Linked DNA regions of Homo sapiens. The protein of the gene in region 1 purifies or fractionates together with the protein of each later gene. This does not show direct contact. Each region holds a gene or a part of one and is shown on either strand. Other genes may lie near its edges. The genes, in order: KPNA4, POM121, MECP2 and KIF22.

Region 1 (5,065 bases):
TGGGAAGGGCTTTTCTGTCTCTGAAATTGATTCAGTACAGTTGACAGTTCATCACGGTTACCTGGTTAAACACTTTTTTTTTTTTTTTAATTCTCCAGTGATCTAGGAAATTGTTTCATTTTTAACACAGGCTTATTTCTGATGGGGATGGGGGCATAGAATAATATGCCTAATAAGCTAAACGTTCTTAACGTTTCATGTCTTAAACTGTCTTTTTGAACATTGAGACCACCTCAAGTGCTGTAAAAATAAGAATGTTATATTAGGGGTGTGTGAGACGCCCTAGTCTAAAATCTATCTTTAAATATATTTCCTTTGTAATTTTCAAAGACTTCAGTAATTGTGTGTTATGGTGGAAATAATACTTTCCATTGGTCCACATTGCTCTGGACCAAACCTGGAGCATTTCTATAATTAGAGCTATCTATGAATCATTAAAAATGGATCTAGAATAATTTTGGGGAGAGGGAGTGTATCATTTAGTTTAGGCTTACCTCAGCAGCACTTCATAGGGTGAGGAGTTGTTTGTTTCTTTAAAGGTATAACTGCATTGTAAAATGACTGGGTTTATTGTAACAGTAATTTATGGGGGCACCCTTTTTGGATTCTCCATTGCCTCAGTTTCCTCAAGGAAAAAGTTACAGAGATTAAGCTAAATTTTGAATTTAGAGAATAACTGCTGTGTAATTTTGGTATAATTACCATAAATTTAGTGTCTTAAAACACAACATACATTATTTCACAATTTCTGTAGGTCAAGAGTGTAGTTAGGTTTTCTGCTCAGGGTCTCACAAGGCTGCAATAAAGGTGTCAGCCAGAGCTGCAGTCTTATCTGAAGCTAGGGGGTCCTCTTTTATGCACATATGGCAAAATCCATTGCCTAGCAACTGAAGAAATCATGGGAACTTCTTCAAGGCCAGCAAGAGAATCTCTGATCTCAGGGAAGGCCTTAAGCGCTTTTTTAAAGGTCTCACCTGATTAGATCAGGCCACCTACCCACCAGGGTGATCTCCCTTTTGATTAACCCAAAGCCAAACTGATGAGGTACCTTCATTACCCCTGCAAAATCCCTTCACCTTTGCCCTGCATTGTAGTCCAATCACAGGGGTGATACGCATCATATTCAAAGATCCTGTTCACAGTCAAGGGAGGGGGTTATATGGAGTATGTATACCAGGGAATCTTGGGAGCCATCTTAAGAGTTCTTCCTATGACAAGGACTCAACTATTTAGAACTGGAACAATTTACAAGTGATAGCCTTATATAGTTATCATAGCAAGCTTATTTGGGGATCAAGGTTGCCTCTGAGAACCTAATGAAAACTGGACCAGCTTCCCCAAAAAGTGTATATACATGGTAGTTTTTCATACAGTTTTAGGGGATTCATAAGAGTCCATGAATTACAGTCTGTCCCAACCCTTCCCTTTAGATGATGAGTTGTTGAGGTGACTTGCCCAAGGTCACACAGCTACTAAGGGCCAAATAAAGCCCACATCTCAACTCCCATACTGCCCAGGGCTTCTAATTACTATTCTAAAGGTAATCTAAATTCATTTAAATTTGTGAACCAATGCAAAAAAATGTGAATGTAGCTTTTTGGATATTTTTTTTGTTTACTAAGGAATGGGTAACATTGTTATAGAAGCTTGCCTAAGAGTTTTGAAATTAGTTGACCTTTTTGAGTTTCCAAAATTGAATCTTCCATTGTAGCTATTAAAGTGAACTATAAATAGGCCAACTTTAATTGTTAACTCCTCGGGTTTGGTGGATTATCTACCATTTATATATAAAATTTCAGTTAGAATCCACCATTGGCGTTTTGAAGGCCAAGATAGCTGAGTATCTTATCCTTTTTGTAACTTCTTGATTATTTTACTTATTGGCAAAATTCATTAACTGTCAGCCAATAATTTAATATTATGGGAGGAAAAAATTTTGCCCAGATATCTGAGGCAATACTCCCAAACACTAACAAACTGATGCCTAACAAACTTGACATTTTGAACACTTAAAGTTTTCCCTAAACTTTTTAATAAGCACATTAATAAAGTATGCTTTTAAATATATATGTACAATAATTTTTAAAAGTTGCTGCAAGATGCCTTCAAATCAATATGCACGTTGGTGGCATTAGTGCAGTCTTCTATTTTTATTTTTTTGAGACACAGTCTCGCTCTGTGGCCCAGGCTGGAGTGTAGTGGCGCAATCTCGGCTCACTGCAACCTCTGCCTCAAGGGTTCAAGCAATTCTGCCTCAGCCTCCTGAGTAGCTGGGATTACAGGAGTACGCTACCACGCCTGGCTAATTTTTGTATTTTTAGTAGAAATGGGGTTTCACCGTATTGGCCAGGCTGGTATTGGAATCCTGACCGCAAATGATCTGCCCACCTCGGCTTCCCAAAGTGCTGGGATTACAGGCGTGAGCCACTGCGCCCAACCAGCCTTAATTCTTAATAAAGGAAGTTGAAAAATAATGAACATTGGTAAAACTATTCTAGTGTGATCAGAAGCAAATTTGGACTGTAGTGTCAAATTGATAAAAAACTAAGCACACCAATCATGTATAAGAAAAGTAGATTTAACATTTTTTTCCCTAAACACTTAACCCAGAAGTTAACAATAATCTTGAAAATTCCTTTTAAATCCAGGCCCTTTAGGTGATGGCAGTTTGACTCAGGATGTCCAAGTCCAGTGTATTTTCAATAAAATTGACTTGACAGCTACTGCTCTGGGTGTAAGAGCAGTTGACTGTGAGGAAAAGTAAATGGTTCTACAGATTCTTTATGATCTACCTCCCACCAGAGGACTGCAGTACTCCCTTGTTATTTATATTTTCTGCCCCAATTTTTGCCTTCTCCACAAATTTTATACCTTTTGTAGCTGCCTACTCCAGATTACTTCACCTTTCCAGACTATCAGTTCTTCCACTTTTATTCTTCATAAAGAAAATTCCAATAACCTGTTTCACTTAGGTTTTTCTATTACTCTTCAAGCATGAATCCTAATTTCCCTGACTATATCTTACCTCTGATCTCCATAACTGATGGATTCCTATCCTAGACTATGTTACTCTAATATTACCCAAGATTTTCTCCAGCCTGTTTTTACTCTTACTTTGAAACAGCTGTTTAAAATGACTCGTAATCTGCTTAAATCTACATGCTTTTTGTGGTTCTCAATCCAGTTACCTACCTTCCAGATAATTCCCTCACTGTCCTGTCCTCTCCATTCCTCTGATGTTTAAGCCCTGTGAGCCACCTTTCCCCCATCCTTTGTGCATAGTTACCATTTTACTCTTTCTTGTTGCCCAGGCAGGAATGCAGTGGTGCCATCTTGGCTCACTGCAACCTCCACCTCCTAGGTTCAAGCGATTCTCCTGCCTCAGCCTCCTGAGTAGCTGGGACCACAAGCGTGCACCACCACGCCCGGCTAATTTTTGTATTTTTAGTAGAGATGGGGTTTCACCACGTTGGCCAGGCTGGTCTCGAACTCCTGACCTCAGATGATCCACCCTCCTTGGCCTCCCAAAGTGCTGGGATTGCAGGCGTGAGCCACCGCCTGGCCACCATTTTACTCTTTTTAGGTACAGTAATCTAATATCCAAAGTCTTGGACTCAGCTAAAGAGGGTATTTACCTTAAAAAAAAAAAAAAAAAGACTCCATCTTTTGATTCATAATTGTGGTGGGGGCGGGGAATCAAGACAACCTTAGTCACTTTGGTATTACCATAATTCTTGTCTTTTCAGGGTTGTCCTGTTCAGCTGCATAAAACATCATGTATTCTAGGTATTTCCTACCTTCACTTACATTTTTACTTGCCGATGTGCTGCCTTCATAAATGGGTATATTCCGCCACACATCTAGTAAGCCCCCAATGCAGTACACAATGTGTATCACTGATAAAACTCGCACTTCTGCCATGTCAGTATTATATTCAGTTGAGTGGTCTTTAGCATAGTGGCAGTCCTAGTCATCCTAACCTTTTAGTTAAGGTAAAATTACATATGTTTATAGAACTCATATAGACAAGCTAGTTTTTAAAATCTTCCTTTTAACCAGTTTAGGATGATCTAGGATAGCTAAGTTACCTACATGGTGACTGTTCGGTCTAATTCAGAAACAGAAGTACTAAAAGAATACTAAAAAGTTTTTACCCATTATCTCTATCCCTGTTTTCTTTTTGCAATTCTCAGCTGCAGGGAGCAAGAAAATACACAGCAGATAGGAAATGTTTGTTTGCATCCTGGCTTTCTCAACCGCACTTTACGTCCTTGAATATTCTAGATATTTACTCCTTCAAGAAGTCAGGAGTATATCCAGGCCTACCTATCATCCTTGCCATCCCCATTAACCCTCATTTTTCAGTATGTGTTTTACATTTATGGTTATTTTTCAGTCTATAGTATCTGTTCACTCATTGCTCTATCACATCTGAGTTTCTCCGTCTTTCTTTCCACTAGATTGTAAGCTCCTTAAGGGCAAGGTCGGCATATAAGCAAAGTTCTGTAAACACCGTGAAGGTACCATGAGTTCTATGGGTACTCAATAAATGCTTGTGATAATGATGCAATTTCTCAGATGAACTGATTGTAGTGACTACCTCTAAAAGCCTTCAATCTACAGTTTTTAAATTTGTCTCATTGCATCTGAGTTTTAGAAAGCCTTCGATAGAAAGGGAAGATACTTCATAGCTTGCCAGATGAATGCCCATTTCCTTATTTCCTTTTCCTCACTTTTGATATTTTGCCCAGTGTCTGGTCTGGATATCTGACATCCATAAGGGTATTGAAATGGATCCTTGTGTGGTTTTCAGATACCAGTTATATATATTATGAAGCAGAGGTAACCTAATATTGTCTAACACTATTGATACAGTTTATATTTTGGAAATACTGTATGGATGATTTATTGAAATAACTTATAATAAGATATTTTACAAGGAAATATCCAAACCACAAAGTTAAGTGATTGCTGTTTTGGTCAGTCAGCTATAGTATGAAATTATTAGAATGCTTTGGTTTATTTATGTATGTGAAGTTATTTTATCCCTATGTGCTTCAGTTTC
Region 2 (7,038 bases), on another chromosome or scaffold:
AGGTGTTCTGTGTTCCAAACAGGAAGCTTTGCTTGGGGGCGGGGGACGGGGCAGATGTGGCTTGGGGTTTGGTAGCCGTCTCTGCCTGAAGGGTTGGAGGTGCCTTGGTGTCAGTGGCTGGTACCATGGATGGAGCAGGGATCAGCCCCAGCAAAGTGGTCGGGGGTTTGGAGTCAAAGGAGGGGCTGGGGAGCAGCCCTGGCGGCCCTGACTGTGATAAACCCAGCGGGGGTAGGAGGCTGGGTGTCTTTGGAGGTGAGAGGGCCTCAGTGGTTGCTGCTCCAGCAGATTCTGGAAGAAGAATAGAAAATGTGAAATTGGAATAAACACTTCAAAGATGATGGTATTCAGTATTTCAGTGTCCTCCCCACGCCTACCACAGAGCCTGGGATCCAAGAGTCAGTCAATAAACTCAGCTAAGTCTACACTACAGGCCTGTACAGTAAATCAAGGAAGTGTTATTTCTACCTCACAGATCATCAGACAGAAGGGGATAAAATGGGGCCTAAATGGGGGCCTAATGTGTAGAGACTAAGACAGTCCAATTGTCTGAACTCTGAAGTTCACGTATGAATCTAGATATACTTTATTTGCCTACTAAGCTCACCTGCCAGGCGCTAAGAGCACACAACTATGAATGGGGAAGTCTCTGCCCTTGAGCAGGGAGGGTGCGTACGAACCCCAGGTTACCGTCTGATAAAGAGGTGTGCGCGCGCAGTGCCGTGAAGGCCTGGGCCGGGAACACCAGCAGCCCTCGAAGTGCTGGAGGGAAAGGAAGCAGTGCTGTTCTGGACCAGTGGTTCTGACAGGCAAGGATATCCTGACCACGCCACCACATTCACACTTCAGAGGTGCCGCACAGGGAAGATCATTCTCATCTGACAGATGAGGAAGGCGAGGCTCAGGGCAGCTACGAGCCAGGCTTCAGATCCTGAGCGTCGCAGCACCCCTTCTCTAACACTTCCTGATGCGGGCTCTGGCGCTGTTAAACGTGGGCCCGCTCCGGTGTGCTGAGCCAGGGTGCGTTCGGCCTGCAGAGCAATCTCCAGCGACTGACAGGCACGACGCCCTTATTCCAACTCAAGCCGGGGATGCTGCTCAGAAGGCTGGATCCACGGCCCCACTCCAGCTCACCTGGGCAGGGTGGCAGGCTCGGGGGAGTCTGCATCTTCTTCAAGCTCTCTAACAGTGGGTTGGTGCTTGGGGCCAGGAGGGAGGTGGGTGGGGAGGCAGGTGCAGCAGCAGGCAGGGTAAAGGTAAATGAAGGCTGAGTGATAGGTGGGGTCTCAGTGACAGAGTTCGAGGCAGCATCTAAGAAAGAAAGAAAGGTGAAGCAGTCCTGGCTTGTCTGGGACTTCTTTCCACATGCCTGTCGGAGAGCAGGCTCTCAGCACAGCTCATGGAGGAATGCCTGCCCTCAATTGCAGTGGTCCCTGCTGTCCAGTTCCCGTGAAGACCAACACGGATATCTCAGGTGAGAAAGACCACAAGAAAACATGGAACCCTACTTGGGATTTTCCCAGAGAAACCCATTTTTTCAAACACCAAAATAAAACCAAAGAAAACAGACACCTGAAACCTCTCCAGTGTGCAACAATCTGTGCTCCTTACCGCTCTTGTCCTCCAAGGCCTGGTTGAACCACTGTAATGAAGCCTTCTTCTCTAAGTCTAGGTCCTCGGCAGTGATCGAATAGCCAAGCTGGGGAGGTGGAGGCTACCAAAGTGAAAAAGAAGAAGTCAGGCCAATCAGAAAAAACGGGAAGGCTAGGCATGGTGGCTCACACCGGTAATCTCAGCACTTTGGGAGGCCAAGCCAGCTGGATCACTTGAGGTCAGGAGTTTGAGGCCGGCCTGGCCAACATGGTGAAACCCCATCTCTACTAAAAACACAAAAAATCAACCAGGCGTGGTAGCAAGCACCTGTAATCCCAGCTACTTGGGAGGCTGAGGCAGGAGAATTGCTTGAACTCAGGAGGCAGAGGTTACGGTTAGCCAAAATCGAGCCACTGCACTCCAGCCTGGGTGACAGAGGGATGTTGTCTCAAAAAACAAAAACAAAAATAAATTAGAAAAAAAATCAGAAGAAACTTGTCCTTAGCGTTCCTAATACTTAGGAGAGCTAAGCCGGGGAGGGCAGGAGTAGATGGACAAGACCATACCAAGGTCAGCTGTTCCCCTCGCCGAGAAGGCAGCAGCTGAACTTTCCGCTTACGCTGCCCAGAGCTGCCAGGTGTAGACTGAGAATTCGAGTTTTGTTTCTTCCTTGGGGTTGTATCTGCAGCTAAAGAAAGAAATCAAGACTCGTTTGCTTCCTTCCCTCTTCCAGAAATGGATGGTTGTGTCTACCCACTTCGCATTTCACATTGAGTTTTCAATGGGTATCTCTGAAAAGATTCAATCTTCTATGGTTTGGTTGCTTGGATGGTGTTTGCAAGATTAAGGCGCGCACACAAACCGCTTACTGTGCAGTAATTACTGGGATCACCCACAGGTGACTCAAACTGAGCTTACCTCTATCCAATCGTTAGTCCCTGTCTGTAGCCTTTCTCCCTCATCAGACTATAAACTTCTGAAGGAGAGGAAATCTCTCTCTTTGTATCTAACATGCCTTAGACATAGCAATGCTCAAGACCTTTTTTCAATAGGTATTAATCTCTACATCCTCCACAAACACCTCCACCACCAACAGCAGCCCCTCCTCCTGGCTCAGCAACCTACCCTTTTCTCCCTGGGACTCCCTGTCTGCTGCCAATGGAGTTGAAGAACTGGAATGATGACACAGCTCCTCTTCTCTGTCAGGAAAAAAGGAACAATTTAGTCTAGAAAGGCTTCTTGGCTGAAGTATTAAATAATTTCTCACACCCTCCTAACTACCAAGTGGCCAATGTCTAAAACAACCATCATTTAAGATCTCAGTATGCCAGGATAAAAAAAGTCAACAGGAAATTCCAACAGAATGAAGGGAGGCTGTTCACAGAGGCCATGAAGACAGCTTTTGTCTTAAAACAAGCACAAAACAATAATCTTCAAACCTTACTTACAACCTATCAAGTCCCTGGGAGTTCTAGACACAGATGTGATCCCTGAGGGAGTGGCATTCCAGCCAACTGCAAGCACCTAGGGGGTCAGCTCGAGTCAAGAACCTGAAGGCGACTGCCCGCTGACTTGACTCTCTCTGCTCTCCACTCTGCATGGCCTCTGTGCTTGCACCCGATCCCTCATGCTGGAGTGGGAGGCGACAGCCAGAGGCCACTGGAGTCAGTATCCAAGACTGTAGGGATGACAGCACTTCGGGTGGGTACTGCATTGTACCTCTCAGGGACTTAAGTTTCTTTGATTCTCCAAGTCACAGCAGCACAAAGCCTAAGAGCCAGGTTCGTTTCCCACCTTTCCTCACCCCCGCCTGTCCACGCAGCAAATGAAAACTGCAGGAGAATGCCAAGTACCTTATTTTCTTTGCTGGCCTCTCCGGTGTCTGGGAGCGGGAGGAGGCTGGGCTAGAGAAGGGTGATGAACTGGGGCCATTTCTCTTCCAGAGCTAAAAATCAAGAGGGACATGACTGAGCCTGCTGATAACTTAGCATCTGACCCTCAACACGACAAAGTCTCTTTTCAAGTGACTAAAAAAACATTCTTTATGGTTAAATGGTTAGTCATGCCTGTAATCCCAGCATGCTGGGAGGCCAAGGTGGGAGGATCGCTTGAGCCCAGGAATTTGAGCCCAGCCTGGGTAACATAGCGAGACCCCTGTCTCTACAAAAAAACTGAAAAATCAGTTGGGTGTGGTGGTTTGCATCTGTGGTCCCAACTACTCAGGATGCTGCAGTGAGCTGAGATTGCCCCACTGCACTCCAGCCTGGGTGACAGAGTGAGACCCTGTCTCAAAAAAAAAAAAAGAAAAGAAAATGAAAAAAATTTGTTTGTGAAGAAAGACCCCTGAAAAGAAAGTCAACTGCCAGTATTAATTATGAAAGCAAAAGAAGAAAAGTCTATAAAAGTAATGGAATGCGAATAAAGGTAGAAGGGATGGACACACTTTTGCATATATTAGGTGGAACGTTAGCCTCAGTAATGAAGAGCCAGGACACATTCAAACCTGTGCCAGACTGTCTACGGAGAGGATAGAAGTAAATTAAAGAAGATAACCCAGTAAACTAATTTAGTCTTGCTTCTATTAAATTTTCTATTTTAATTTACTAACTTCATTTTAAAAATATGCTGTCGTAACGTTTATGACTTTTGCAACAACGATGGCATTTATCATCATGTGATGATTATCCATACATCTGCCTCTTCCACCAGGTGAGTTCTTGACAGCAAAGACGGTGTTTTCATCTCTGCTTCCTCCACAGACCAGCAGCAAAGTAGATGGCACAGAGCGGACACTGCAAATAGTCTCGTAAGTGCTGAGCCTAATTACAAAGCCACTAAACTGTCACCTCAGACCGTCTTTCCTACTTGAAAAGCTGCTAGTGATTTCTTACCCAGTACCAGCTACATCATATAAGTACAAACAGGAAGCCAGCAATGCTTAATAAGAGTTCAAAAAGGGAAAAGAGGAAGCTTCAGACAAGTGGTAAGCAGCAGAACAGTTCAGTGAGGCCACCATCAGGAAGCCGGGCCCAGGAGGAGCTTGAGAAGACTGCTCACGGCAATAACAGTTGAAGTTACGCTCAAACAGCAAGAAAGGCCAGAGCACAATGGTTTAAAAAACATGGGATTACAGGCATATAAAAGAGCAGAATACAAAAATTCATCAAAGGGATCCAAGGATTGAATATATAAGCGGCATTTTCAATCACTTCAGATCCCTGACACTACCTCACTGGTTCTCAAAGGACGGCTCAGTCACCTGTGGAACTTTTTTTTTTTTTGAGACGGAGCCTTGCTCTGTTACCAGGCTGGAGTGCAGTGGCGCGATCTCAGCTCACTGCAACCTCCGCCTCCCTGGTTCAAGCGATTCTCCTGCCTCAGCCTCCCGAGTAGCTGGGACTACAGGAACATGCCACCACACCCAGCTAATTTTTGTATCTTTAGTAGAGACAGGGTTTCACCATGTTGGCCAGGATGGTCTTGATCTCTTGACCTCGTGATCTGCCTGCCTTGGCCTCCAAAAGTGCTGGGATTACAGGCGTGAGCCACCACACCTAGCCACCTGTGGAACTTTAAAAGCACATAGATGGCCGAGTGCGGTGGCTCACACCTGTAATCCTAGCACTTTCAGAACTGAGGCAGGAGAACTGCTTGAGCCCAGGAGTTTCGGACCAGCCTGGGCAACATAGCAAGACCTTACCTGTAGTTAAAGTAATAAAATTAAAACAATAAAAACCATAAACCTTGCATTTTTCTTCACAATGTGCTCCAGACACTGAGGGATACACATCACTGAGCAAGCAAGGGTCAGAAATGCCAAAGGGGCCAGACGAGGTGGCTCACACCTGTAATCCTAGCACTTCAGGAGGCTGAGGCAGGAGGATCACCTGAGGTCAGGAATTCCAGACCAGCATGGCCAACATGGTGAAACCTCATCTCTTCTAGAAATACAAAAACAAGCTGGGCACGGTGGCTGACGCCTGTAATCCCACCACTTTGGGAGGCCAAGGTGGGCGGATCACGAGGTCAGGAGATTGAGACCATCCTGGCTAACATGGTGAAACCCCGTCTCTACTAAAAATACAAAAAATTAGCCGGGTGTGGTGGCAGGTGCCTGTAGTCCCAGCTACTTGGGAGTCTGAGGCAGGAGAATGGCTGGGAGACAGAGCAAGACTCCGTCTCAAAAAAAAAAAGGAATACAAAAATTAGCCAGGTGTGGTGGTGCATGCCTGTAATCCCAACACTTTGGGAGGCCAAGGTGGGAGGATCACTTGAGCCCAAGAGTTTTGAGACCAGCCTAGGTAACATAGTGAAGTCTCATCTCTACCAAGAAAAAATAAAGAAAAAACAGAAATGCCAAAGGAGACTGTAATGATTAGCTAGGACTGGAAGACAACTGAACAACTGGTTTAACAATTAGGGGAAAAAAGTATTACTCCTCTACTTCATTGACTGTACATACACACTCATTTCAGATCTAACAAGACAAGGATGTTTATTATCATGTCTATTCAACTTAAAGTCCTAGCCAAGTGCAGCAAGACATAAACAGAATAAGATTGCAGAGGAAAGGAAAAACTCATTATCATAGACCTGAGTGTATGTACTAAAATCCTAAAGAACATACAGATTTAGCAAACTTTCTGAATACAAAATCAGTTGTATTTCTACACACCAGCACAGCCAATCACATTTTGAAGGCACTATTTAGAATAGCATATATGAAGGCACTATTTAGAATAGCATATACCTAGGGCCAGGCGCCGTGGCTCACGCCTGTAATCTCAGCACTTTGGGAGGCAGAGGCAGGTGGATCACCTGAGGTCAGGAGTTTGAGATCAGCCTGGCCAACAAGGTGAAACCCTGTCTCTACTAAAACTACAAAAATTCGCCAGGTGTGGTGGCACGTGCCTGTAATCTCAGCTACTCGGAAGTCTGAGGCTGGAGAATCACTTGAACCCAGCAGGTGGAGGCTGCAGTGAGCCGAGATTGTAAATCTAATAAAAAAGAAGTAAAACCTCTACAGAGAAGAAATAGAGATGATGTAAATAAATGAAGGAGGCAGGACATGGTGGCTCACGCCTACAATCCCAGCACTCAGGGAGGCCAAGGTGGGAAGATTGCTTGAGCTCAGGAGTTTGAGACCAGCCTAGGCAACATAGTGAGACTGTGTCTCTATTATAAGTTTTTAAAAATTAGCTAGGTGTGGTGATGCATGCCTGTGGTCCCAGCTACTCAAGAGGCTGAGGCAGGAGAATCGCTTGAGCCTGGGAGTTCAAGGCAGTAGTGAGCTATGATCATGTCACTGCACTCCAGCCTGGGCCACAGAGCAAGACCCCTTGTCTCAAAAGTTAAATAAATAAATAACGACATTCCATGTTCATAGATTAGAAGTAAACAAGGTCAATATTGTAACAATGTTAATTCCATCCAAAGTAATCAGTA
Region 3 (7,079 bases), on another chromosome or scaffold:
TAACTCGGGCAGCTTGAGAACAAGCTGCTCTTAGCTAATTAAAAGATTTCTGCTGATATTAACCTTTATAAAAGATTTCAGGTTCCAGGACACGTCATTTATCATGCAGAGTCCCAAGCAGGTACATTAGCAATGGAAACCAGGCTCCAATAAGGAACTAACAATTTTATCTCTGTTGTTCTTTATTTTAGGTTAAAGAAATGAACTTCTCGTTTCATCTCCACATGGGAGGAATGTTCTGGAGGGGGTAACAGCCTATTAAACTCATCTAGCTTTTTTTTTTTTTTTTCAAACTCCACAGCTTGCCTCCCTACCCTACTAGACTAGATTGCACAGAGGCAGGGCAGGCACGGGAAACGACTCTGGTTGGAAATTACAAACATATACACACAGAATGCAAGCACCATAACCCTTTGAATACACAGTGGTTTGTGCCTTGCCCCAGACCTACCTAAGGATTTAAACAGCACAGAAGTCGGAGTTCGGCTGACTGCATGACACTCTCCTATCAATCGGGTGAAACAAAGACCCAGTACTCTAAGCTTAAAGCATTCCAGGCAAAATTTTAGTTAACAGGCAATAGGAAGGTGTGATAGGCCAGTGCTAACAAGAAAGCCACAGATGGGTTTCTTTGAGCTGTTAAGACACTGGAAAGGGCTGGTATGGAAGCCCAGTGGAGCCATTAGGACAATGGAAAAGGAGGTACCCCTCCACCAGGCACTTTGCAGAGAAAACTATACTCTGGAAGCTGCCTGCACTGTTGATAGGGCTAGACGTATGATAAACAGCTAACCGGAGGGGCACCCGAGGAGACAAACTGCCAACTATGAAGAACAAAGCAGAGACCTCAACTTGTCACGTCTCAAGCTCAGATGTACAAACTTTGGGATCGTCAAGTGAGGCTCGTGTGTATGCCTGGGGATATGACTGTATTCCAGTGATCAGCCACCTAGCTGACCTGCCACGAATGGGTGACCTGTGGTGACTTACTTTAATCAACTGTAGTACTTCTAGATTGATTGGGTGATTTAAGGTTCTGACATATTCAGGCAAGAAAATAAAAGCAAGTGTTTCCTAGACTTCCTCATTGGGATTTGAAATAGAAATCCTGAAAAGCCCATAAAAGCCTATTTCCCTAAATCCTTGGTGGAAATTCCCAAAAGATTAAAAAATCCAGACCCTGTCTTATTATAGGGACCCAGCAGATTTCAAAAGACTCAAGAGGTCAGCTTAATCTGGTTATTAACTGAAATTGCTGAGATACTGATGAACATTCCAGCCATGGAACCCAAAATTCTCTAGAGTAATAATTACCTATTAGTGCAATGTTACTACTGAGGCCGTATATGCTTCATTTTTACAGTATAACAAAATGTCTAAAACTTATGAGAGTCCTACAACGTCTAGGCCACTCAGTATCACATCCAAGTAGGTATGGTTCCTGGATCACCAACCAACCCCTGAATTCGATCCTGTTATCTCACAGTCTGGGGTACTGATCCCGCACAGCAGAGACACAACGTGTGAAAGGCTCGGCAGAGCCCATTCCTGTTCCTGGAAAAATAACCAGAAGCACACATCTGCCTGACCATGAGTCAGGAATATCAATTTTGTGGTGGAGCCCATTTCTGCTGTGACCAACCCACACCCGAACACACTCGCAACAGAAGCAACCGCCACAGAGCAATTCCAGAATGAGCTTTTTCCCCCTCGGGGTCCATACTTAGCAATGTCATAAACGGTCTCCCCTGCGACAGCAATCCTTTTACACTCTTCATAATGACCTTAAGTCTTTAGTGCAAAACCACAGAAACATTGCCACTGCCATATAAAAGTCATCTGAGTTTCAGTTTGGGTGATTCGGTCATGACCAAACTGAACAGAGGATAACCTTTCAGGCACAATTAACAGGAGCCACAGCGTCGCGATGAACTTGCCCCATCTGGTACCGGTGATCCCGAGCGCTCCAGGGCGATGAGAGCCCGTTACCTACTATGTCCCACTCCACTTATGTAACTGGAAGATCGCCGGCGAAGGGGAGGGTAGGATGGGAGGGTGCTCACATTCCGAGGCCACAGCACTCCAAAGAACCTCTGAGCACCCTGGGGACACGCTCGCACCTTAGAGCCTCTGGCGCCGAAGAGCCTCGGGTGCTGCTGGACGCACAGTCCCCTACCCACGGCTCCTGATGGGAACTATAACCACCTCTTTATGATGAGTTGTGGGACCCAGAACACAATGTCTAGTCCCTTTTGTGGATAATAATCCCCACCTACTTGTTCCTGCTAGATGGGGAAAGGAGCCGGTGGACCTACTCGCTCGCGGGGGGGTAGCGGGGGGCAGAAATTCATGGAATGGGCGAGAAGGAGGGGGAGGCAAAGCCCAGAGATGGGGGTGAGAGCTCAGGAGCCCTTGTGGCGCACTCTCCCGACGGGAGGCGAAGTGCGCACGCGCGCCGGTGGGGGGGCCGAGTAACGGGAGAGGGGGCGCGCGAGGGAGGGAGGGGGAGAGCGCGATCCAGGGAGAGGCCGGGGCCGCGGGCGCGCGACGGCGCCGCGGCCCAAAGCCCCGAGAAGGGCAGGAGCGCGCGCAGCCCCGACAGGCGAAGCCCCGGCGACAGGGGCGCCCGCGGGGCCGGGGGCCGGGATGCGCGTCGAGGGCGGGAGGAAGAGGGGCGTCAGGCGAAGGCGGCTCCAGGGAGGCCGCGCCGAGGACGGTCACCCGCGAGCAGGGGTGACGGGCCGAGGGGAGAGTCGCCACCGGCGGCGGCGGGAGGGGGAGGGTAGAGAGGAGGGACGCCATCCGCCAGCCGTGTCGTCCGACCCCGCGGGCCCCTCCCGCGCCACGTCCCGCCCCTGACCCCCGCCCCCCGGCAAGGGTCCCCGCCCGCGGCCACGGCGGTCCCACTCACAGTCTCTCCTCCTCGCCTCCTCCTCCTCCTCCGCTCGGCGCGGCGGCGGCGGCGGCGGCCATTTTCCGGACGGCTTTTACCACAGCCCTCTCTCCGAGAGGAGGGAGCGCGCGCGCCGCCGACGCCGGGACCCCGCACGGCCGACGTCGCGCCCCGCCCTCTTGGCCGGCCCGCGCGCTGCTGCACCTGCGCGCCCGCGCCCCGCCCTCGGCGCCGCTGCGAGCCCGCCCGTCATTGGCTGTGATGGCCGGGCTGGGACGGGGAGGACGGGGGAGGGGGGAGTCTCAGCGGCGATGCCGTCAATTGGCGAGATTTCCTGTCCATTTCGGCCAGGGAAAAGGGGGCGGACCCCTCCAGCTGTTGATTGGCTGCTTTCGGCCGTCGTTTGGGGAAAAGAGGCGGCTTGGGCGCGGAGGGACTGGTTTAGTGGGCGGAATTTGAATGTTAAGGATTAATGGACCCTTGCGGATGCTGGGGCAAGTGAAGGCCTAGGCTTGGGACGCCTGTTTGCGCTGCTCTGAGGGGCGATTGACCCTCTGTCCACAGATGCACCGAGTGCGCTGCAATAAGCGTTTCATTGCACCCACATTTTCTCAATATCACTATCTTCGGCAGAAGCAGCAAAGTTGCCCACCCTGGAGCCTGACGTTGCCCCAGCTGAGGGGCCTTGGTTTCAGAGGCCTACTCAATGCATTATTTCATCCGAGCCTGCCCAGTGCTCACACTCTCATAGAGGCGGGGAATAAACTGACAACAAATCGCAACCCTGGCTTTCGCAGAACTCTGGCGGGGGAAGAGAGTGCATGCCAAGGCCTCGTGACACCTGTCACTGTTGGATCAGATGGTTTGGTGGAGGTGTGAATAAGGGGCAATGTTAGCTCTGCCTGGAAGATATGATTTGGGAGCTGAGATCCAGCAATTTTTCACTTTCCTAGAAGAGTTGATTTGGAGCTGAGATCCAGCAATTGTGTTTTGGGAAAATAAGAGTATGAGAAAACTGTTAGCTAACCAGGTGTTCAGGACAGGAGTGTTTGTTAAGGGGACCTTACCCTGATGCCAGTCATTATCCAATCCATTCAATGATCCTTCTGTTAGTTCTATGCTTAGCAAGAAAACCTGATTCTGATTTGGCTGCTTGCCCCCATTCATTTATTGACTACCTGCTATGTGCCAGGCACTCTTCCAGGCTCTGGATGCACGGTACTGAACAGACAGCAAACTAACATTCTTGCCGGGAAGATTCATACTAGCATACAAATAAGTATAATATATCATTTCACATAGTGATAAGGGCTTTGAGAAAGATAAACTAAGTGAAGGGGGTGCTATTTAGATATCTGCTGGTTTTCACCCTCATTTTACTCCCTCATATGAATATCTGGGGAAAGAACATTCCAGGCAAGTTCAAAGGACATGAGGAGAGACTATGCCTGGCATGTTGGGGACTAACGAGGAAGTCAGTGTTGCTGGAGAGTGGTAGGGAATGTGATTGGAAAGGCAGCTGGGGCCACTATGAGAACTGGGAGTTCATTCTTTTTTGGGGGGGGTGGGGATGGGGTCTCATTCTGTCACCCAGGCTGCAGTGCAGTGGCGCAATCTTGGCTCACTGCAACGTCCACCCTGAGCTCAAGCGATCCTCCCTCCTCAGCGTCCTAAGTAGCTGGGACCACAGATGCGAACCACCACGCCTGGCTAAGTTTTTGTATTTTTGATAGAGATGGGAGTTCACCATGTTGCCCAGGCTGGTCTCAAACTCCTGAGTTCAAGTGATCCGCCCGCCTCGGACTCCCAAAGTGCTGGGACTACAGGCGTAAGCCACCGCACCCGGCCAGAACCGAGAGTTTATTCTAAGATGAGAAGCCCTCAGAGGATTTTGAGCCAGGAGCTGTCTGATCTATGTTGCAGGTGTAGAGTGGAGAACTGGACGTGATGAAACAAAACTACAGCACAAGGCTAGTTGCAAGGCCCTGGAACAGTCTAGGAGAAAGAGTTGATGGTAGCTTTAACTAGGGTGGCAGCAGTGCAGCTCTGAGAAGTTGTGAGATTCAAGATATGTTTTCAGAACTGAACAAAAGGATTGGATGTAGGGCATAGAGCAAGGGAAGAAACAAGGATGATTCCTGAGATTGGGGCCTGAGCAACTGGGGAAATAAGGGTGCTTTTCACCATAGTGGGGAGAACTACAGGAAAAGTACATTTTCAGAGGTGCAGATCAAGAGTTCTGCTTTGGCTGTATTAAGCTTGGGGTGCCCAGTGGTGTGAAAGTGGAGATGTTGAGTAAGCCATTGGGTGTGCGATGCTGAAGTATAGAGATGCGGCTAAAGCAGTCCAAAAGTCATCACGCTGAACATCCAATTCAAGAAGCCATAAAGAAATGACAGAGTAAGCCTGCAAAAGTAGAAGAAAGAAAAATAAGGATGAATAAAACTTAATGAAATAGAAACAAATGATGGAGAGGATTGAGAAAATTTTAAACCTGCTTCTTTGAAAAGCTGAAAAACAAAAGCCAACCCTCTAACAAGCTGGATATAAAGAGAAAAGAGAAAAGTAAATTATGTTACTCATGAAAAGGTTTTATTATGCACTGTGTGTCAGTAAATTTGAAAACATAAGCAAAAGGAATACATTCCTAGGAAAGTACAGCTTACCAAAACCGACTTTAGAAACAGAAAATCCCTGTAACCACAATGAAATTGACTATGTATTTAAAAAGCTACCCATCCTCCTACACACAGACACAGACACGCAGACACACACAGACACACACGCACACAGAGAGAGAGAGAGAGAGAGAGAGAGAAACAGACCAAGAGGGCTTTATGGATGACTTCTACCAAATCTTTAATGAGTAGGCAATTCCAATCATACACAGAAAAGAAATAAATGTCTCCAAACTTATTTTACTAGACTAATATATCTACTATGATGAGCCAAGAAAAGTATGACACAAGATGTGGAAATAAGTTTTAAAATTCTAGACAAATAAACTGAATCCTGCAGTATATGATCTATCACAACCGAGTTGAGTTTTATCCTAAGAATGCAAATATGGTTTAAAATTAGAAACCCAACCTTAACAAACTTAAGGGGAAAAACACTACATAATTATTTCAATAGATGCAGAAAAAGCATTTGATAAAATTCAACATCTACTTATGATTTTTTTTAAAAATCAGAGAACTGGAGTTCAAGACAAGCCTGGGCAACATAGCAAGAAGCAAGACCCCGTCTTTACAAAAAAAATTTAAAAATTAGACAGACGTGGTGGCACACACCTGTAGTCCCAGCTCCCTGGAAAGCTGAGGTGGAAGGATCACTTGAGCCCAGGAGTTTGAGGCTGCAGTGAGCTATGATTGCACATTGCACTCTAGCCTGGGCAACAAAGCAAGACCCTGTCTTTAAAAAAAAAAAAAAAAAAAAAAAGGTGACCAGGCACGACGGCTCACGCCTGTAATCTCAGCACTTTGGGAGGCCGAGGCAGGCGGATCACGAGATCAGGGGATTGAGATGATCCTGGCTAAAATGGTGAAACCCCATCTCTACTAAAAATACAAAAAAAAATTAGCCGGGCGTGGTGGCACGCACCTGTAGTCCCAGCTACTCTGGAGGCTGAGGCAGGAGAATCGCTTGAACCTGGGAGGTGGAGGTTGCAGTAAGCCGAGATCGTGCCATTGCACTACAGCCTGGGTGACAGAGCGAGACTCCATCTCGAAATAGATGGATGGATGGATGGATGGATGGATGGATGGATAGATAGATAGATAGATAGATAGATAGACAGACAGACAGACAGACAGATAGATAGATAGATAAAATAAAAGGTTAGGAGAGGGCAAAAAACCTGAATAGACATTTCTCAAAAGAAAACATTTAAATGACCAACAGGTATATGGGAAAAATCTCGCCAGGCACCTTGGCTCACACCTGTAATCCCAGCACTTTGGTAGGCCGAGGTGGGAAGATCACTTGAGTCCAGGAGTTCAAGGCCAGCCTGGTTAACATGGCAAGACCACTGTCTCTAAAAAAACAAAAAATTAGCCAGGCATGGTTGTGCACACTTGTCATCTCAGCTTCTTGGGAGGCTGGGGTGGGAGGATCACTTGAGCCCAGGAGTTTGAGGCTGCAATGAGCCAGGATCGTGCCATTGCACTTTGGCCTGGGTGACAGA
Region 4 (7,784 bases), on another chromosome or scaffold:
TCTCAACTTCAGCACTACTGACATTTCGGGCTGGCTAATTCCGTTGTGGGGCTGTCCTGTGCATTTAGACTGTTAGCATATGCTTACTAGATGCCAGTAGCATTCTCCACCCTCACCCTCAAGTTGTAACAACTAAAAATCTCTCCAGACATCTCCAAATGTCCTGTGAGGGACAAAGTTGCCCCGAGCTGAGACCACTCAGATTCATTTCATAGGCAGGTCACCCGCCCTCTTGGCTTCAGTAACATCTTACAGCTGATAAGTCCTATTGCACGTTCTGCACAAGAGCTCTCAACTGCAGCCCACGTTCTGAACGGCTGCCCTGACGGCTCCTTTTTTTTGAGACAGAATCTCACTGTCGCCAGGCTGGAGTGCAGTGGCGCTCTTGGCTCACTGCAATCTCCGCCTCCCGGTTCAAGCGATTCTCCTGCCTCAGCCTCCCGAATAGCTGGGACTACAGGTGCACGCCACCACGCCCAGCTAATTTTTGATTAATTTTAGAGACAGGGTTTCACCATGTTGGCCAAGATGGTCTCGATCTCTTGACCTCGTGATCCACCCACCTTGGTCTCCCAAAATGCTGGGATTACAGGCGTGAGCCCAGCCGACGGCTCCTCTTAAACTCCACCTGTCCTAAACTGAACCCTCCTTCCCCATCTCTCTGCAGCCTCCTCCTTTGATCTCTGATGTAAATGAATGGCACCAACCCCAAAAGTGGGAGTCTTTAACTCCAACGTCTCTTACCTCCCACATCAGTTCATCATTAACATCTGTCAAGTCTATCTCTTTAAATCTCTCTTGAACAAGTCCACTTCTCTCCACTCCCACTGCACTACCTCTGCCCAAGGTCATGGTCTTTACAGCCTTCCTTGCTGGTGGTAGCAAGGTGTCTCCCTGCCCTCTAGTCATTCCCTCTGTTTCCTTCCTTGCAGTGTAAGTTACCAGTCATGATGAATTTCCTTCACTTCCTACAAAACTCCAAGTTCTCTTGCACCTTTGGATTTTTGTCCACGTTAATCTCTCTCCCTAGAATATCTGCATTGCTCCCCACCCCACCCTGGAGTGACTAAGGTAAACACATTTTAACTCCTCTTAAAAAACAAAACCAAAAACCCTTTCCTGGTAGACACTAAGGCTTTATCAGGTGCAACCACAGCTCATGTTAGCCCCTCCATAAGCATTTGTCACACCCCACTATTGCGTGTTTGTCACTTTCTCCACCTGACTGCCAACTGTGAGAACAAGTTTTATCCTGCTCACCTTTCTAACCCCAACACCTGGCGCAGAGTAGGCCCTCAAGAAGTATTTGCTGAAAAAAATTAAGATTTAGTGAATAAACTACTAATCACTGGCTTGTTCATTTCCATCATGAAAATGGCTCACGGCCATTCCTGCCCCAGGGCTCACAGTCCAGGGTAGGAGGGAAGAGGGGAGGGCCACATGTAAACAATTATTTACTGCACAAGAGTCTAGCCCTTTCATGATAAAAGCAACCTTGAGCTTGGACCAGGCTAGCAATTATTAATTTTCCCTTCTTTCACAATTCCTAAATTTCATTCACTCTTCTCCCTTTTATTGATGAGGAAATTGAGCTAAGAGAGCATCTTACATCATAAATAAGAAAACACTTGCTGTTCTTGTCTTCTTAGTCAAGGCCTGGCAAACTCCTATCCAACCTTTGAAACCCATCTCAAGTATCATTCACTCCCTTAATGAAGTCCTCCCAGAATACTCAAGGGCTTACTTCAGATTCCACACCCTCAGTTTATACACATCTCTCATTGTGTTTCGTATTACATCTACGTATGTGACACTCTATTGAAACAGACTGTAAATTCCTCGAGGAAGGGACATTATTCATTCAGGCATTTTCATATCTACCATGCACCGGACACAGTGCATCTTCGAAGGGTAAGGGGAGACTGTGCTCAGCCAGCAGGGATAACATGTACTTGGGCATAATGGTTAAGAGCAGAGGTTCTACACTCAGACTCCTTGAGAGCGAATTCAAGCCCCAATATTTACTAGTTGTGTTAACTCTGAACAAACTAACCTCAGTTTCCTGTGTAAAACAAAGACAGTAATAGTAACAACCTGATAGCATTGTGTGGACAATAAATGGTTCACCACCATAAAATGCCTACAACTGTGCCTGGCACATAGCAAGAGCTCTACATGTGTTAGGCATTCTCCTAAATGTCTGTTTCCCCACGAGGCTAACGAGGGCTCCAGTGAATTACTATGGCGCTCACCATCATCACTAACGAGGATTAAGTCTCCGGGTTAGAGAGGCACATGTAAACAAATACTCACATACAAGATTTTGGGTGTCCTAACAGCCTTTCCAACCCTAAAATAGCATTCACTTCCATGCTAGAGTGAAAGGAAATTTTAGTCTTTTATTTCGTTTTCCTGTAATCGCAGAGCATCTTACGCTGCCAACTCAAACCCAGCAGCAGCCGGGTCTGTTCCTCAGCCCGTCCTCTTGCATCTCTCAGGGATGTCTCTGCACCCAAACACCATGTCCCACACAGAACCCTTCCCAATACACGCCTCCGGCTCCCTTCTTCTCGTCCTCGTGGCTAGAGCGTCCGCCACTCTTCTCTTGCTTATTCAGGTGATCTCCAGGGATGAGGCCATGACCCCCGTTTCACAGACGAAGAAACCGAAGCTCACAAAGAAAAAGTGCGCGGGGTTCAAGCCAAGAGCCTGGACCGGAGACCCGAGTCTACTGACCCAAGGGGAGAGCAGGAAACAGGGAGAAGGCAGGAGCCAGGCGGGGCGACCGGCTCGCGACCCCACACTCTCACCGTCCCCCTCTCCCCGCCCCTGCGCCATGGCCGCCTCTCCGCGACAACCCGCAGAGCCTGGACCACACTCCGACACATAACTCCCACTAAACTCCAGACGTCGGTACCCGCCTTGCCCAGGCCGGGCTCAAGTACCTGAGATCGCCGCCGCTGAAGCTGCCGCCATCTCGCGTCGCCTCTGCTGCGTCGAGCCGCCCGCGGCCATTCCACTCCCTCCTTGGGCCCGCCTCTCCCATTCGAATTCCCCGGTGCCCCGCCCCCTCTCCCAGGTTCCACCAATCAAGACTACGCGCCGCCGGAAGCTGCTGCGTGTGGGTCGCCACTATCCCGCCTTCCAGCGCTCGCCTCCGGGTCCCCAAGAAAAGGTTCCCCTGGTCAGGACGCATGCGCGCGCGTGGGCCGCGCAGCCGTTGATGTCTGGAAGCGCGCTGCGATACAAACCCCTACGCAGGGATGTTGGCGACGGTGGCCGCTGGGGGAGCTGCTCAGCGCCGCCCGGCACTGGGCTCCCTTTCCCTTTACTTTCTGCAGTTTCTTGCCTCCGTGGGTGGTTGGCGCGTCTGCGGAGCCAGGGTCGTTGTGTGGATCGTGGGACTGCAGCCCCAGCCAAAGGGCTATCACGTCTGGTCGGTTCTGTAGATCTGGGCCCCAGGGGCTGGACTCTGGGCAGTCACGTTGCAGTCGCTGCCTGCTGGGCCCAAGGCCACTGTAGGTCCCCTCGCGTCCGTGTCAGCCCAGGAGAGCAGCTTGGATGTTCCTGTCTTTATAACTTGGCACTCAGCACGTCGGCGAAGCGTGGAAAACGCTTAGTCTGTGATTCAGTCCCACTCACCCACGGTTCCGGTTCCCAGTCCTTAAGAGTACAGCAGTCCGTTGAGTAGCTCTCTGTCCTTTCTGAAGGGTTGGCTAGGGACGGTCATTCCACTTTTGAGCACCAGGTAGGTAGGGCCCAGGTTTAGACATTATGTTCCACCCTGTTGAACAACAAAACAAAACACGGGCCGGGCGCGGTGGCTCAGTCCTGTAATCCCAGCACTTTGGGAGGCTGAGGCGGGAGGCTCACCTGAGGTGAGGAGCTCGAGACCAGCCTGGCCAACATGGCGAAACCCCGTCTCTACTAAAAACACAAAAATTAGCCGGGGATGGTGGCACGCCTGTAGTCCTAGCTACTCGGGAGGCTGAGGCAGGAGAATCGCTTGAACCCGGGAGGTGTAGGTTGCAATGAGCCGAGATGGTGCCACCGCACTCCAGCCACGGCGCCAGAGTGAGACTCCGTCTCAAAACAAAAAACACAAATCTTAGATCAGTGTTTCTGAAACGTTTTGCCTTGGGATCCCACTACAGTTTTTAAAAATGAGGCCTCCAAAGATGTTTTGTGTATATGAGGGTTTTTGTTTTTTTGTTTTTGAGACGGGGTTTCACTTCCATCTCCCAGGCTAGAGTGCAGTGGCTCAATCTCGGTTCACTCCAACCTCTGCCTCTTGGGTTCAAGTGATTCTCCTGCCTCAGCCTCCCGAGTAGCTGGGATTACAGGTGTGCACCACCACGCTCAGCTAATTTTTGTATTTTTATGGAGACAGGGTTTCACCATGTTGGCCAGGCTGGTCTCAAACTCCTGACCTCAAGTGATCCACCCGCCTTGGCCTCCCAAAGTGCTGGGATTACAGGTGTGAACCACCAGGCCTGGCCGTATATACTGTGTGTGAAGTGAAACTAAATTAAAGTTGACATTAATGAATTTAAAAATTACAGTAAAAAACCCATAGACATAAAAAGGACATCTAAGTAGTGGTTGCCAGGGGATGGTGAGGGGCTGAGGAGCTGGCACTACAGCAATAGATATAACGAGTTTCTTTTGGGGGTGATGGAAATATTAAATATTTTGGAATGAAGTAGTGATGATGGCTGCGTAACGTAATAAACATACTAAAAACCAGAGAGGTGTGCACTTTTTTTTTTTGAGACATAGTCTCTCTCTGTTGCTCAGGCTGGAGTGCAGTGGCGCAATCTCAGCTCACCGTAACCTCCGCCTCCTGGGTTCAAGCAATTCTCCTGCCTCAGCCTCCCGAGTAGCTGGGATTACAGGCATGCACCACCGTGCATGGCTGATTTTGTGTTTTTAGTAGAGACGGGGTTTCTCCATGTTGGTCAGGCTGGTCTTGAACTCATGACCTCAGGTGATCCATCCGCCTCGGCCTCCCAAAGTGCTGGGATTACAGACGTGAGCTACCAAGCCCTGCCTAGACCTCCATCTCTTTTTTTTTTTGAGACGGAGTCTCGCTCTGTGGCCCAGGCCGGAGTGCAGTGGCGCCATCTCGGCTCACTGCAAGCTCCACCTCCCGGGTTCACGCCACTCTTCTGCCTCAGCCTCCCGAGTAGCTGGGACTACAGGCACCTGCCACCACGCCCGGCTAATTTTTTGTATTTTTAGTAGAGACGGGGTTTCACCGTGTTAGCCAGGATGGTCTTGATATCCTGACCTCGTGATCCACCCGCCTCGGCCTCCCAAAGTGCTGGGATTACAGGCGTGAGCCACTGTGCCTGGCCTACCTCCATCTCTTAAAAAATAAAATTAGCCAGGCATGGTGGCACACACCTATATTCCCAGCTACTTGGGAGGCTGAGGTGGGAGGATTGCTTAAGCCCAGGAGTTTGAGGCTGCAGTGAGCCGTGATGGTGCCACTGCACTCTGGCTTCAGTGACAGAGGGAGACCTTGTCTCAAAGACACACAAAAAAACTAGATTCTCATATCTGCTTCTGCATTCATGCTGTTGTGATGTCACATATAATATAGTATTTTGAATACTCCACTATATACTTGAGAAACAATGCAAGAGAAGTCAATTGGTATCTTAGTTTTATTATGAAAATAGTTTTGAACTTGTAGACCCACTGAAAGTGTCTCAGGGACTCCCAGAAGTCTCTGGACCATACTTTGAGAACATCTGACATTGGCAATTGGCAGTTTGGTCTTCCTTGCCTGTCAGAAAAGGCTGTTCAGTTTTCACATTTGTTGTCAACTCCAGATATTTGGTAAGAAACCTGCCAGAAATAGTGAAAAGAGCATAGATCAAGGAGATAGGGCTTCTATGTTTGAATAAACCATTTAGGTACAGGGCCTTGGTGCCAGGCTGCCCAGACCAGAGATTTAGCCTCTTTGTGCCTCCATTTCCTCAGATATTAAAAGGGAATAATGGTTGAAATACCTCCTAGGGTTGTTTTAAGGATCTGCATCTGGCTGGTAGAAATTAGGGTGGTTTGGCCAGGCGTGGTGGCTCATGCCTGTAATCTCAACACTTTGGGAGGCTGAGGCGGGCAGATCACCTGAAGTCAGGAGTTTGACACTAGCCTGGCCAACATGGGGAAACCCTGTCTCTACTAAAGACACAAAAATTACCCCGGCGTGGTGGCACACACCTGTAATCCCAGCTATTCAGGAGGCTGAGGCAGGAGAATCACTTGAACACAGGAGTTGGAGGTTGCAGTGAGCTGAGATTGCACCACTGCACTCCAGCCTGAGGGACAGAGCAAGACTCCATCTGAAAGAAAAAAAATTAGCCAGATGTGGTGGCATGTGCCTATAGTCCCAGCTACTTGGGAGACTGAGGCAGGAGGATCGCTTGAACCCAGGAAGTGGAGGTTGCAGTGAGCTGAGGTCATGCCTGTGCACTCCTGCTGGGATGACAGAGAAAGAAACAATTGATTTTTAAAAAATAACTTCCAGGCCGGGTGCAGTGGCTCACGCCTGTAATCTCAGCACTTTGGGAGGCTGAGGCAGGCAGATCATGAGGTCAGGAGATCGAGGCCATCCTGACTAACACGGTGAAACCCCGTCTCTACTAAAAATACAAAAAACTAGCTGGGCGTGGTGGCGGGTGCCTGTAGTTCCAGCTACTCGGAAGGCTGAGGCAGGAGAATGGCGTTAACTCGGGAGGCAGAGCTTGCAGTGAGCCGAGATGGCACCACTGCACTCCAGCCTGGGTGACAGTTGGAGACTCCTCAAAAAAAGGCTGCTCACGATGGCTCACGCCTGTAATCCCAGCACTTTAGGAGGCCGAGATGGGCGGATCACAAGGTCAGGAGATTGAGACCATCCTGGCTAACACGGTGAAACCCCGTCTCTACTAAAAATACAAAAAATTAGCCAGGTGTGGGGCGGGCGCCTGTAGTCCCAGCTACTCGGGAGGCTGAGGCAGAAGGATGGCGTGAACCCAGGAGGCGGAGCTTGCAGTGAGCCGAGATGGCGCCACTGCACTCCAGCCTGGGCGACAGAGTGAGACTCTGTCTCAAAAAAAAAAAAAAAAAAAAAAATTCCAAACTATGTCTTTAAAAGAAGCAAAGGAGGTCAGATGTAGTGGCTCATTCCTGTAATCCCAGCACTTTGGGAGGCTAAGGTGGGAGGATAGCTTGGGTCTAGGAGTCCAAGACCAGTCTGGGCAACCTAGTGAGACCCTTCTCTACAAAACATTTTAAAATTAGCCAAGTGTGGTGGCGCATGCCTGTACTCCCAGCTACTTGGGAAGTTGAGGTGGGAGGATCACTTGAGCCCAGGAGGCTAGGTTGTGGTGAGCGGAGATCATGCCGCTATTGTATTCCAGCCTGGGCAAAAGTAAAACATAGAGTTTGTGCCATAAAAGATAATTAGTGGGTCTAGGCCTGGCGCGGTGGCTCATGCCTGTAATCCCAGCACTTTGGGAGGCCGAGGCGGGCAGATCACGAGGTCAGGAGATCGAGACCATCCTGGCTAACACGGTGAAACCCCGTCTCTACTAAAAATACAACAAATTAGCCAGGCGTGGTGGCGGACGCCTGTAGTCCCAGCTACTCGGGAGGCTGAGACAGGAGAATGGCGTGAACCTGGGAGGCGGAGCTTGCAGTGATGCACTCCAGCCTGGGTGACAGAACGAGACTCCGTCTCAAAAAATAATAATAATAAAATAAAATAATAATAATAATAATTAGTGGGTGAGGCC

The links.
Region 2: the proteins of KPNA4 (region 1) and POM121 purify together in Homo sapiens (affinity purification with mass spectrometry; 2 studies listed by BioGRID and IntAct, with this or other methods). This does not show direct contact.
Region 3: the proteins of KPNA4 (region 1) and MECP2 purify together in Homo sapiens (affinity purification with mass spectrometry; 4 studies listed by BioGRID and IntAct, with this or other methods). This does not show direct contact.
Region 4: the proteins of KPNA4 (region 1) and KIF22 purify together in Homo sapiens (affinity purification with mass spectrometry; 4 studies listed by BioGRID and IntAct, with this or other methods). This does not show direct contact.

The regions. Positions count from the first base shown.
Region 1 is NC_000003.12:160,494,507-160,499,571, reverse strand, and holds the end of KPNA4 (importin subunit alpha-3), read left to right. Parts: 3' UTR 1-4,565; downstream 4,566-5,065. UniProt on the Homo sapiens protein: Functions in nuclear protein import as an adapter protein for nuclear receptor KPNB1. Binds specifically and directly to substrates containing either a simple or bipartite NLS motif.
Region 2 is NC_000007.14:72,935,090-72,942,127, reverse strand, and holds part of POM121 (nuclear envelope pore membrane protein POM 121), read right to left. Parts: intron 3,539-7,038; coding exon 3,447-3,538; intron 2,793-3,446; coding exon 2,719-2,792; intron 2,282-2,718; coding exon 2,160-2,281; intron 1,715-2,159; coding exon 1,612-1,714; intron 1,312-1,611; coding exon 1,135-1,311; coding exon of another isoform or gene 1,117-1,134; intron 292-1,116; coding exon 1-291. UniProt on the Homo sapiens protein: Essential component of the nuclear pore complex (NPC). The repeat-containing domain may be involved in anchoring components of the pore complex to the pore membrane. When overexpressed in cells induces the formation of cytoplasmic annulate lamellae (AL).
Region 3 is NC_000023.11:154,094,693-154,101,771, forward strand, and holds the start of MECP2 (methyl-CpG-binding protein 2), read right to left. Parts: upstream 3,026-7,079; 5' UTR 2,974-3,025; coding exon 2,912-2,973; intron 2,278-2,911; exon of another isoform or gene 2,121-2,277; intron 2,090-2,120; exon of another isoform or gene 1-2,089. UniProt on the Homo sapiens protein: Chromosomal protein that binds to methylated DNA. It can bind specifically to a single methyl-CpG pair. It is not influenced by sequences flanking the methyl-CpGs.
Region 4 is NC_000016.10:29,785,991-29,793,774, reverse strand, and holds the start of KIF22 (kinesin-like protein KIF22), read right to left. Parts: upstream 3,025-7,784; 5' UTR 3,016-3,024; coding exon 2,946-3,015; intron 2,808-2,945; exon of another isoform or gene 2,554-2,807; intron 1,310-2,553; exon of another isoform or gene 1,261-1,309; intron 1-1,260. UniProt on the Homo sapiens protein: Kinesin family member that is involved in spindle formation and the movements of chromosomes during mitosis and meiosis. Binds to microtubules and to DNA. Plays a role in congression of laterally attached chromosomes in NDC80-depleted cells.